Linked DNA regions of Homo sapiens: regions 1 and 2 are each linked to region 3. Evidence: fine-mapped expression QTL. A gene starts in region 3. Each other region holds a variant in brackets. All regions are shown on one strand. Distances are from middle to middle.

Evidence for each region. PIP is the estimated chance that this variant, and not a neighbour inherited with it, causes the effect. A credible set is the group of variants that fine-mapping cannot tell apart.
Region 1: its variant is the best candidate, but not a certain one, in a credible set for the expression of EEF2 in lung (TOPMed, PIP 0.59).
Region 2: its variant is the best candidate, but not a certain one, in a credible set for the expression of EEF2 in tibial nerve (GTEx, PIP 0.51).

Annotation. Positions count from the first base shown.
Region 1 is chr19:4,018,441-4,022,544 of GRCh38, forward strand. The region is part of intron 2 of PIAS4 (protein inhibitor of activated STAT 4); the gene reads left to right. Among named protein-coding and RNA genes, the nearest start is that of PIAS4, 13 kb to the left of the region's middle. The variant A/G (reference allele first, on the strand shown) is at 2,089.
Region 2 is chr19:4,011,386-4,015,489 of GRCh38, forward strand. It overlaps PIAS4 (protein inhibitor of activated STAT 4), which reads left to right. Exons shown (of 11, transcript NM_015897.4): 2 at 1,538-1,964. Among named protein-coding and RNA genes, the nearest start is that of PIAS4, 5.7 kb to the left of the region's middle. The variant C/CA (reference allele first, on the strand shown) is at 2,267.
Region 3 is chr19:3,983,729-3,987,832 of GRCh38, forward strand. It overlaps EEF2 (eukaryotic translation elongation factor 2), which reads right to left and starts at 1,735. Exons shown (of 15, transcript NM_001961.4): 1 at 1,650-1,735; 2 at 408-622. The coding sequence starts at 1,652. RefSeq lists enhancers at 301-1,152, 446-665, 1,921-1,970, 3,987-4,104 and a silencer at 1,531-1,640.

The DNA.
Region 1 (4,104 bases), 35 kb after region 3:
GTTGGGCTCTCGGATCGGGCCCAGGGGCTGCTTTTCGTGCCCGGGCCGGAGGGCCTGGCTGAGCACCTCACCCCAGAACCGGCTCTGCCTGGCAGGGCCCCCGTGGTCACCTGATCTTGCACCTGGCCCCAAAGGTGCATCTGGTTCAGTGGTGCCCTTGCCTTGGTCCCGTGGCCTTGGATGCTGGGCAGCCCACGAAACCATCTCCCCCTTGGGGAACTTCATGCTTCAGTGGCCCAACAAGAAGGAGCAGCAGAGTGATGTAGGGAAACTGAGTCGCTCCTTAGGAGGAGAAGGTTTGGAGAAAAGTGAGGTGGCGGGGGGTGCGGTTTTTAAATGGGGTGCTCAGCGAAGGCTTTCCTTCTGGTGACATTTGTACAAAGACAAATATAGGGCCATGAGGCTGGTCGGGGGAGGAAGGTTCCAGAAGAGGGAATGGCAGGTGCGGAGGCCCTGATGCAGCATGGCTGGTGGGGCCCAAGCAGGAGGCCAGGGTGGTGGCCGTGTGTGCGCCGGGGTGTGTGTGGCCCTGAGCAGGGGTACTGAGGGTCAGGGGTCTCCTGCGGAGCCATCCCAGGGGGCGGGCTCTGGCTGCTGAGACCGGCAGAGCTGGGGGCAGTCGTCTGCACCGGGCGGGATTTGAAAACAGAGCTGACAGGACTGGCTGAGGGAGTGGATGTTTGCAGGACAGCAGAGACGGGGGCTTCATGGATGCCACCTGGGTTTCTGGCCCCAAACAGCTGACCCCGAGGGCAGAAGGGCAGGTTTGAGGGAGACCCCACAGCCCCTTCCCCAGCATAGGGGGGCCGGGTGTTTGGGGGGAACCGTCAGCGGCCCGGGGCCAGTGGCACAGCAGTGAGAGCACAGGGCACCTCCCAGGCCCCCAGCAGAGAAGCACAGCCCGGTCTCCCCCAGAGGGAGGAGCCCTCCCAGGGCAGGGACCCCAGAGTCTTGTTCTTCAATGACTGGGCCCTGTCTGCCCCAGGCATGGGCTGGCAACAATCCCTGGCCAGCTGGGTGGCTCCCTTGCTGCCTGCTGGGGACCCACCCTTCTCCCCTACCTCCTTCTGAGACACTGAGGGGTGGGGTGTCTGTGTTTTCACCTCCGACCCAGCCTGGAAGCTCAAGGCCCAGCTCAGGTGTAGGCTCCCGTGCAGCCTCCCTGCCCCTGAACCATTGCTCCCCTGGCACTCAGGGCAGACCTGGGCGCGTCTGCAGGTGGCCTGTGTGCCCCCCTCCCAATTAGGCGGCCTTCCTCAAGGGCCCAGCCGGGACTCCACAGCCCATCACCTCTGCAGAGACTGGCTGTGCCCTGAGCATATAAACGGGAACCGGCTGTGGCAGCCCCCTCTTCCTGAGGGCCAGCCACAGACCCGGCACCGGTCCCCGAAGAAACAGGTCAACATGGGCGGGACGTGCAGGCTGAGGCCACAGAGGCCCTGGCAGGGCTGGGAGCCGAGCCCAGGGAGTCTGGCTTTTTTCTTTTTTTTTTTTTTGAAATGGAGTCTCGCTGTCGCCCGGGCTGGAGTGCAGCGGCAGGATCTCAGCTCACTGCAAGCTCCGCCTCCCAGGTTCACGCCATTCTCCTGCCTCAGCCTCCCGAGTAGCTGGGACCACAGGCGCCTGCCACCACGCCCGGCTAATTTTTTGTATTTTTAGTAGAGACGGGGTTTCACCATGTTAGCCAGGATGGTCTCTATCTCCTGACCTCATGATCCGACTGCCTCGGCCTCCCAAAGTGCTGGGATTACAGGCGTGAGCCACTGCACCCGGCTTCTCGTGGGTTTTAATTGAGAAAGTTCCAAGACAGTGCTGGTAGTTGAGGTGCGATCCCATGGCTCCGGTTCTTGTAAAGGCCCTGTCGTGGGTGCAGGCCACACCACTGTGTGCACTGCCGTCCTGGGAGCACCTGGGAGCACAGACATAGCCTGCGAAGCTGATGAGCTCCAGCCTTTACCAGGGGCAGTTCGCCATCCCTGTTCTAAAGGGCTTGCCTGTCATCTCGTTGTCTCGTCTCCCGGCCACTGCAAGGCTGCCATTGTGGCCAGATTCTCGCTCCCCCACGCTCTTCCGATATTTTTTACACTT[A/G]TAAACAAATAGGTGTTTACTCAGATGCCTTCTCTCCATTTTCATTACACAAGTGATAGCAGGACGTGCACGCTGCTCAGCGTTTTTGCTTTGTATCTAAATATATTTTTTAATGTAGACACAGTCTTGCTATGTTGCCCAGGCTGGTCTCGAACTTCTGAGCCCAAGCAGTCCTCTCACCTCAGCCTCCTGAGTAGCGGGAATGACAGCTGCACACCAGCACACCTGGCTCAGGCTTATTTAAAAACTTTTTTTAGAGACAAGGTCTCACTGTGTTGCCTGGGCTGGGCTCCAACTCCTGTGCTACAGCGATCCTCCCACCTTGGCCTCCTGAAGGGTTGGGGTTACAGGCATGAGCCGCTGTGCCCAGCCTGCAAGTTTCTTTGAACGCATGTTTCCATGTATTGAGGGAAAATACTTTGGAGTGGGATTCCTGATTCCTGGGTGATAGGGTAGGTCTGTGCTTACCTTTATAAGGGTAGTTTCCCAGAGTGATGGTACTGTCTTATAACCCCACCAGCAGAGAGTTCTGATTGCTCTACACCTTTGCCATCTCTTAGAGTTGCCAGTCCTTTCATTTTAGCCATGCTAGTGGGTGTGTAGAGAGGTATTTTATTTTATTTTACCTCATTTTATATTATTGATACAGAGCCTCACTCTGTCACCCAGGCTGGAGTGCAGTTACACAATCTCGGCTCACTGCAACCTCCGCCTTCTGGGTTTAAGCGATTCTCCTCAGCCTCCCGAGTAGCTGGGATTAGAGGCGTGTGTCACCATGCCTGGCTAATTTTTGTATTTTTAGTAGAGATGGGGTTACCATATTGTCCAGGCTGGTCTTGAACTCCTGACCTCAAGTGATCCACCTGCCTCGCCTCCACAGTGCTGGGATTCCAGGCATGAGCCACCGCACCTGGCCTGGGTGTGTAGAGAGGATTTAAACCGGTCTTGGATTTCTACACAAATCGCAGGGGCCTGAAATACTGGCTGATATTTTGTGGAGGATTTTACATCTGTGTTCATGAGGGGTATTCATCGGGAATTTTCCTTCCTTGATGCTGAGTTGTGAGGTTTTGGTATCAGAGTTATGCTGGCCTTGTAAAATAAGAAGTATGCTTTCCTTCTCTGTTTTTTGAAAGAGTTTATGTACGGTTTATGTGGTTTCTTTCCAAAATGTTTTATAGAATTCACCGATATGGACCTGCATTTTCTTTTTCTTTTTTTTTTTTTTTTTTTTTGAGATGGGGTCTGATTCTGTTGCCCAGGCTGGAGTGCAGTGGTACGATCATGGCTCACTGCAGCCTCCACTTCCTGGGTTCAAGCAATCCTCCTGCCTCAGCCTCCAAAGTAGCTGGGACTACAGGTGGTGTGCACCTCCACACCTGGCTAATTTAAAAATTTTTTGTAGAGACAAGGTCTCACTTTGTTGCCCAGGCTGGCCTCAAACTCCTGGGCTCAAGCAATCCACCCACCTCAGCCCCCAAAGTGCTGGGATTACAGGCATGAGCCACCATGCCCAATCTGGACCTGCAGTTTTCAGAAAAGGTTTTAATTATGGATCCAACTTCCTTAACAGGTAAAGAGCTTTTCAAACTTCCTGTATCTTTTGGTACCCGTTTTGGTAATTTGCATCTTTGGGAGGATTTGTCCATGTCACTAAGTTGTCAGATTCATTGGCATAAAGTTTCACCTTTTATTCCCCTATTGAACCGAAAAGCTGTAGGGTCTGTACTATTGTTCTTTCATTTCTGATATTGGTAGTTTGTGTTCTCACTGTCTTTTTGTTGTTCAGCTAGAGTTTTGTTTTTTTTGTTGTTGTTGTTGTTTTTGGTGGTTTTTTTTGAGACAGAGTCTCGCTCTGTAGCCCAGGCTGGAGTGCAGTGGCACGATCTTGGCTCACTGCAAGCTTCGCCTCCCTGCAAGCTCCGCCTCCCAGGTTCGCGCCATTCTCCTGCCTCAGCCTCCCTAGTAGCTGGGACTGCAGGCGCCTGCCACTACACCCAGCTAATTTTTTGTATT
Region 2 (4,104 bases), 28 kb after region 3:
CTTCCTTCCCCTTCAGGGTCCTACCCCTCATGGAGGTCAGGCCACTGCCAGTCTACCCCACCTCAAACACCAGGGTCAGCTGGGCTCTGCTGTTTGGTTTTTATTTCGCTGGAGAGGCCCGGCCAGGCGATGAGGGCCAGGTCCTGCCAAGCCTCATTTGTCGCTTTGACCCAGGTCCTGCAACAGCCCCTGTGGCTGCTATCTTCCCCTTGGACCGGTCCCCCAGGGACTCAGGGCAACGTGTGGAGGTGTGTTTGGTGTGGAGGTGTGTTTGGTGTGGAGGTGTGGGGGGTGTGGAGGTGTGTGGGGTGTGGAGGTGTGTGGGGTGTGGAGGTGTGTGGGGTGTGGAGGTGTGTGGGGTGTGGAGGTGTGTGGGGTGTGGAGGTGTGTGGGGTGTGGAGGTGTGTGGGGTGTGGAGGTGTGTGGGGTGTGGAGGTGTGTGGGGTGTGGAGGTGTGTGGGGTGTGGAGGTGTGTTTGGTGTGGAGCTGTGGGGTGTGGAGGTGTGGGGGGTGTGGAGGTGTGTGGGGTGTGGAGGTGTGTGGGGTGTGGAGGTGTGTGGGGTGTGGAGGTGTGTGGGGTGTGGAGGTGTGTGGGGTGTGGAGGTGTGTGGGGTGTGGAGGTGTGTGGGGTGTGGAGGTGTGTGGGGTGTGGAGGTGTGTGGGGTGTGGAGGTGTGTGGGGTGTGGAGGTGTGTTTGGTTGTCGTGAGCTGTGGGTATTTAGCACCACACAGAGCCCAGGATGGCCCCAGTGTCCACAGGGCCAAGGAGGAGAAACCCTGCCTGGGATGATCAGCAGATGTTTCGGAGGCCCCCACAGGCCCAGCCCTGTGTTGACATCCAGAGGGTAGTGTGGCAGCAAGAACCGCCCCTGGCTTCAGAGCCAGGCCTGGGTTCGAATCTTGGCGCTGCCACCTCTGAGCCGACAGTTCCTCATTTGTGACAGAGCTCACACACCAGCCTAGCAGGGGTGTTTTAAGGATCAGAGTTAAATATATAATCACATGACCGGCTTGGTTCCCGGCAGGTGATTAGTACTAAGTAAACTGTGGCTACCGTTGGCGAGACCGAAGGGAAAACATATCTGTGGCTGACATGGGTTGAGCGCCCGCCCAGCCAGTGCTTTATGTCATTATCCTCCCGACGTAGAGACTGAGGGTCAGAGAGGCATTTGGTGTTTGCCGGTAAGGCACTGGCAGAGGCTGTTTACAAGTAAAGCACAATTGTCAGTTCCTGCCCTGGGGATGCTTTCAGGCTGAAGACAGGGAAAGAGAACCTAAAATAGAAGGGGGGGCCTAGTCAGAGGCGCTTTTGCTGCGTTGGCGATGCTGGGGAAAGTTTGATGAGGAGGAGGGAGGGGGCAGGGCTTTGCTGGGAGGGGGCACCGTAGGGGCAGGGCACTCCACCAGCCCCAGCCAAGGCTGGCGCTTCCTGGCGAGTGGGTGTCTTTCACGGCCCCCACATCGGGGCCTGGCCTCCATGGAGTCCCCTGCCTCGCAGCTGTGTCCTCTGAGTGTGTGTGTGCTTGCTCCTCCTCAGAACATGGTGATGAGTTTTCGAGTCTCCGACCTTCAGATGCTCCTGGGTTTCGTGGGCCGGAGTAAGAGTGGACTGAAGCACGAGCTCGTCACCAGGGCCCTCCAGCTGGTGCAGTTTGACTGTAGCCCTGAGCTGTTCAAGAAGATCAAGGAGCTGTACGAGACCCGCTACGCCAAGAAGAACTCGGAGCCTGCCCCACAGCCGCACCGGCCCCTGGACCCCCTGACCATGCACTCCACCTACGACCGGGCCGGCGCTGTGCCCAGGACTCCGCTGGCAGGCCCCAATATTGACTACCCCGTGCTCTACGGAAAGTACTTAAACGGACTGGGACGGTTGCCCGCCAAGACCCTCAAGCCAGAAGTCCGCCTGGTGAAGCTGCCGTTCTTTAATATGCTGGATGAGCTGCTGAAGCCCACCGAATTAGGTGAGTGGTCACCCTGGGGAGGCTGCGACTGGAGGCTTCACCTAGGCCCCGTCGCCCAGCCCAGCCCAGCCACACAGCCGACTTCGAGTGATGTTCTCTGTGGCGCAGCCAGGGCGGGGAGCCACAGTGGCCAGGGGTGTCCTTCCTCGGAAGCAAAGGGACCATCTTTGATATTGGTCACCCCTTGCTGTGTTACAAGTTACCCCGAAATGGAGCCACTGGAAGCAGGGGGCGTCTGTTAGCTCTCAGGAACCTGTGAGCTGTGTTGCGGGGCATTGGGGCTTGGGGGCTCTCATGAGGCT[C/CA]AGTCAGGCTGGAGCCACCTCATCTGGAGGCTCGACCAGGGCTGGAGCAGGCACATCCTTGTGTGGTGGCTGGCAGGCCTCAGCTCCTCGCCAGCTCTTGGCCACAGTCCCCAGGTCCTCATGGTGCGGACTCCTGCACGGATTGCCTGGGCGTCCTCAGCCTGGTGGCTCCCTCACCCTAGGGTAGCGAGTGTGCACCTCCAAGCTGGGAGCTGGAGCCCTTTTTATAACCCAACCTCGGACACGCCTCGCCATCTCCCCCACAGAGTCCGTTGCTCACACAGACTCTGTGGCGCATGCAGGGACCACACCAGGCTGTGACTGCCAGGGCCAGGGGTGACCAGGGCCACCTGGGAGCCTGGTTTCCCTGCTTATTCCCCTTGGAAAGGGGGCTGGCCAGTGGCATCCTTCCCCCGGGCTCTGGTTCCTCGCTGGCAGCCTGCAGGAGTGTCCTTGGTCAGTGGGCTCAGGTCACTGCCAGGCTGTGTGCACCGGGCGTGCTGGGGGTTCAGGGCGATCCCAGGCGGAGGAGAGGTGCTGGGCTCCACGCTTCTCTCTCTCGTGTCTTTGTCTGCAAGCACTGACTGAGCAGGAACTGTGTGTCAGGACCTCATAGCCCACAGCAGTGTGGACAGGCCCCTGGTGCCTCCCCAGCAGCCGTGGCCATTCAGGCTGCAGGTGGGCATTGAGCCCAGTCTCTGCCTCAGCCATAGCCCTGAGCTCAGGGCCAGGGAGGCCTCCGCAGCCCCAGCCCCCAGGGCAGAGAGAGTGTGCAGCCTCTGGGACTCCCAGATAGGGAGCGGAACGTCCTGGGCCTTTGCGGACCTGTGCCTTGAGGCGCTCAGATTTCACCAAGTCCTCTGTGTGCCTGGAGGTCTCTCCGTCTCTTCTTCCTGCCTCCCCTCCCCTGCCCCCACTCTTTCCTTCGCACAGTAAACATCGGAGCGCCTGCTGGGTGGGTGCGTGATGGGCACCAGGCGTGGGCACGCAGCAGGGAACAGGACCAAGGCCACGAGGTTCAGAACCCTGTGCATGCCCCCTCCCACCCTGCTGACCCAGCAACCTGCCTGGCCCCTGCTGTGGCCTGAGGGCCCTTCTCTGGCACGCTTCAGTCCATTGGGTGCCAGCTGGCCCCCGCTCCCCTGCCCAGGGAGGCAGCGTTGATGGGGGTAGGGGGAAGGGGAACTGGCTGCTTTTCCCCTCCCATCTGCAGCCCTGGGACTTAGTGAGGTTAGGCTGGAGGGGCTGTGCTTCCAGGTGAGGATGGAGGAAGTGGAGGAGGGAGGAAGGTGCTGTCGGTGGTTCCTGCGGCAGCCGAGGCTCCTCCCTCCAGCCTGAGGCTCCGCCTTCCAAGTGAGGCTCCGCCTCCACCTTTTTTCTCTTGCAGGAGGTGTCTAGCAGCAGCCTCCTGGGGAGCAGGTTGGCCCAGTGGCACCTGTCCTGGGGGACTCAGGGTCTTGGCCTGAGTTCCATCGGACTGACTTTCCCAGCCTTTGCTCTCTCATGAGGGAAGCTGTTCCCCCTGCCAGGTTCTTGGGCAGAGCTGGCTGTCTCTGAAGGTTGGGCCTTGGGAAGGACCTGCATCACAGGGAGGCTGGGCTTTCCTGGGAGCGGCAGGGCAGGCTTGGTCCAGGGCGGGGGACGGGGCTGACCAGCTTCCTTCCTGCACGGGGACCAGTAGCTCCGTCCCACAATACATCGCTGTGCCCTGAGCCACCAGGGACCCCGGTCACCTGATCTCCGGGAGAGCCTGCTCCCCTGTCTACACCAGTGTGCCTGTGCTGGCGGCTCAGAACAAAGAGGCCATCCCCACCCTGCCTCTCTCTCCCACTGGCTCT
Region 3 (4,104 bases):
ACTCTGCGCTCCCCCTACTCATATCGGGGCCAGAAACTGACATGGAATGAACATCATCCAGTGCAACACAGGAGCTTCCCAGCGTCCCAAGCACTAGAACACCCTCCCCTCCCAGGTGTGACAGCCAAACCTCTCCAGATATTGTAGGAGTGGGGGCAAGTCCCCCAGGGAGGGAGAACCACGGAGTTAAGCCCCCTCCTCAAGAAAACCTTCCAGCTCGCAGTACCCCGAATCCCTGTGCCTCTCCATCCTGTCTCGCTGGACTGAACCTCACTCATTCTCCCATGAATTAAGAAACCAGGGGAAAGAGACGTTGCCAAGTCTCTCCCCGCGCACCCTGGCCCAGTGGCCTCCAGCTGCCAGGCCAGCACCTCCCTGCCTGGGTACAGAGGGCACAGGGAGCTCACGTTGACTTGATGGTGATGCAACGCTCCTGCTCGTCCTTCCGGGTATCAGTGAAGCGTGTCTCCCCGGCCCGGGCCGAGGCGATGATGCCCGCCTTGCACACCAGGGAGTCTGTCAGCGTGGACTTGCCATGGTCCACGTGGGCGATGACAGACATGTTGCGGATGTTGGCCTTCTTGTCCATGATGGCGCGGATCTGGTCTACCGTGAAGTTCACCTGGGCAAGACAAGGAGGCTCAGACCAGCTCGTGATTTCCAGGAACACAGCATGGCACGGAGCGTTCAGTCCAAACGAACCAGCATGCCCAAGGCCAGGAGGGGGTTGGTGCTGGGGTGCCCCAAGCCCACCGAATCTTGCCAGCCTAACACCCCTTAAGAGCCACCCCGCAATCTCCAAGGAACCACCGTTAATAGGTGTCATTCATGATTGACAACCCAGAAATAAAAGTGCTCAGGAATAAAACTGAGTGTCAACAGATTTCCTTGATACCAGGTACAAATACTAAAGTCTCATTTGGGGCCAAACACGTAAGGGATGAATCCTCTCCTAAAGCCCCCTCCACGTTGTCACCGGGCCACCCAAACTTCCCCGAGCAAGAAGCTTCATCATAAAATGCAAGGTCACCCCTTGGCAAACGGGATCAGACAAGGCCACCCACCCCAGGAAATAACGGGGAGCCGGAACGGCCCTAACTGCCACAAGCCTACACCTCGTGTCTCAATAAGAGTCTTTGTACATCTGGGAGTCATAGGAAGGACAAGTGCCTAAGGTCGACGATTAACAGCATCAGGAGAAGGTATTTGGAAGGAAAAGGGGAGCCTTTCAGGTGTCGCTTTGCTCGTTCTGCCATTCCCTGCCGCCCCTAGTCCCCCGGCAGAAAATCGATCTCAAACTCGCGGCCCGCGGGTTACATAAGGCGCCTCCCTGTCTCCCCGCTTCCACCGCGGTGCCCGCCATTACTACGCCTGCCACATCATCATTCCCCACCCCCATCCCCGCTAACAACCCAGCTCCAACCAGGTCTGGGCAAGGTTATGGCGCCCTCGGAAACGGAGAAAGGGCTCGGTGAACAGCGCGGCGCACAGACATGGCGGCGGCCGCTTCCCCAGCCCCGGGTCCTCCGGCCCCGCCGCCGCTACGTCTCCTCCTGGCACGGGGGGCCCCAGCGTCCCAGGCTAGGCAGCGTAGGCCCCGCGGAGGCCCCGCCGCCGCTCCGGGGCACCAGCGAGGCAGGGTTACTCACCATGGTGGCGGATGGCGGTGGATTCTCCCAGGTAGAACCGAAAGAAGCGAGTCGCGCCGAGGATGGCGGCGACGACGGCGGAAGAGAACGCTGACGTCAACACTCAGCTTTTTATAGGCGGACGCCGGTTGGGCGGGTCATGTGACTGCGCTGCGAAGGCGGGGCGAAGGGACGCCGCGCAAGCGCACGGAGGCGTGTCCCCCCGCCCGTTAACCCATTCGGCGCCGGCGCGGCGCTCTAGAATAGAAGCTGGGCATCTCGGGGGCGGTGGTCGCCCTCGGTGTGCAGTGTTCAGGTGCACAAAGTAAAGAGCGCCGTTTTAGCTGAGAACGAGAACCATAGCAACGATATTAGCTTACAAGTTGTCCAGTACTTCTATTAAAACCAATTTACAAGGTGAATAGAGTCTGTGGATTATACCCAAGTCAATTTCCCTGTTTGGACATTGTTACGTAAGACGATACCCCTGGGAGAAGCCGAGGGAAAAAGGACACTCGCGACCACTATACTGTTTTTGCAACTCCTTACCTGTAATTATTTCTAAATAAAAACTTTATAAGAAGCAGGCATCGGAATCACTGATCCCACAAATGCATACTGAGCATCTATACACCAGGCATTGTTAGGGGTTTTGTAGATATAGCAGTGGACCAAACACCTTGCTAGCTTGACCACACTGCGTGTTCTTCTACCAGCTACTAGGATTTCTCTGTGCCTCAATTTCACCTGCTCGGAGGTGATCAATACCACCCTATTGTTTGGGGGAGAGTGAAACGAACTAAAGACATCTAAAAGAATTAGGACCGTGCCTGATACCCAACGCTCAATAAACGCTATCTATTTTAATTAGCTAAGATTGCTATTAATAAAACAGTTATTTATTTCAGGACTGGTTTGCCATGTCCCAGGCACCCGGCTAAGCGGTTTACTGGCACAATTTCATTTTCTATTTCATTTCCTCTCCAGGGGGAGGCGCAGGAAGACTGTTTAGCATTTGTGTCCTAATCTGACCCTAAGAAACAGTTGAATGTATTTCATATCTCATGAATTGGCATTCAATTGTGTAACTCTATCCCTTATGAAAAGCCCAACCCGCTGTTTAGCACATAGTAGGTACTCAGCATTTCTTGCATGAATGATGTTCTCACAGTGCAAATGAACCCCCTGCGGTACATCTTTCCTTAAACTCACTTTGTGAAACAGGAGAGCCACTGCAGTGCTTTTCCTGGGCTGGGAGAGGGGGAGGTGTGGATCCACAAAAAGCAATGCAAATTCCAGCCTGGACTCTAAAATAAACCTGTACACTCCTCCCCCTCACGAATGCTTCGGGCACTTTGCTTTACAAAGCGCTGTCTCAACCTTGGGTTTCATTTAACGGATGATTGCTCTTCCTATCACCATTTAACCCAGTGGAAAACTGAAAAGTATCTTCCGAAAGGATTGAGGCTCTGAAAGGCAGAGGGCGCGGCAGGGAGCAGATGGGAGCGCCCGGGGTCCCTAACCACCTACACCTGTACCTGTGACGCGTTTAGTTAAGTTGCAAGTCAAGCGCATGCGCCATTTGGGGCATGAGTTTTTAGCAGAGGGGTAGTCAGTTTCGCATTATTAATAATAAAATTCTTCAAAATTTTTAAATGCACTGAGCACCTGCTACGTGTTGCGTTTCCTATTGGGGGCTTCGCAGCCGTTTTTTCCGTGCAAAGTGGGAGCATTTCAGAGATGTAATGGAAAGGTTTTCATTAAAAGAGGTGTCAGGCGAGAGGCGGAGGTTGCAGTTAGCCGAGATCGCGCCACTGCTCTCCAGCCTGGCGACAGAGCGAGATTCCGTCTCAAAAAAATTTTTAAAAATTTTAAAAATTAAAGAGGGGTTAGGCTGCTTGCGGTGGATCACGCCTGTAATCCCAGCACTTTGGGAGGCCGAGGCAGGCAAATCACCTGAAGTCAGGAGTTCGAGACCAGCCTACCCAATATGGAGAAACCCCGTCTTTACTAAAAATAAAAAAATTAGCCCGGCGTGGTAGTGAACGCCTGAAATCCCAGCTACTTTGGAGGCTGAGGCAGGAGAACCGCTTGAACCCGAGAGGCAGAGGTTGCAGTGAGCCGAGATCACGGCACTGCATGCACTCCAGCCTGTGCGACTGAGAGTAAGACTCTGTCTCAAAAAAAAAAAAAAAAAAAAAGGAGGGGGGGCTGTTCACAGGTATCCCGGAACTTAATAAAAGAGGGGTTGAATTTCTTCTCAAGTGCATGGGTTGCTTATTGAAAAATTCTAACATCATGTAATTTAAAGAACTAGGGGGAGAGCTTAAGGGAAAAAGGGGAATTTTCAACCCCATAACTGCAGGGATGGAGCCAGGTGTTGGCAGGGAAGGATCTCTCCCACTGTCATCCCCACATCCATGAAGAGCAGAATCCTGGAGTACCACAAGCAGCCACAACCAGGTCAGCTGTAATA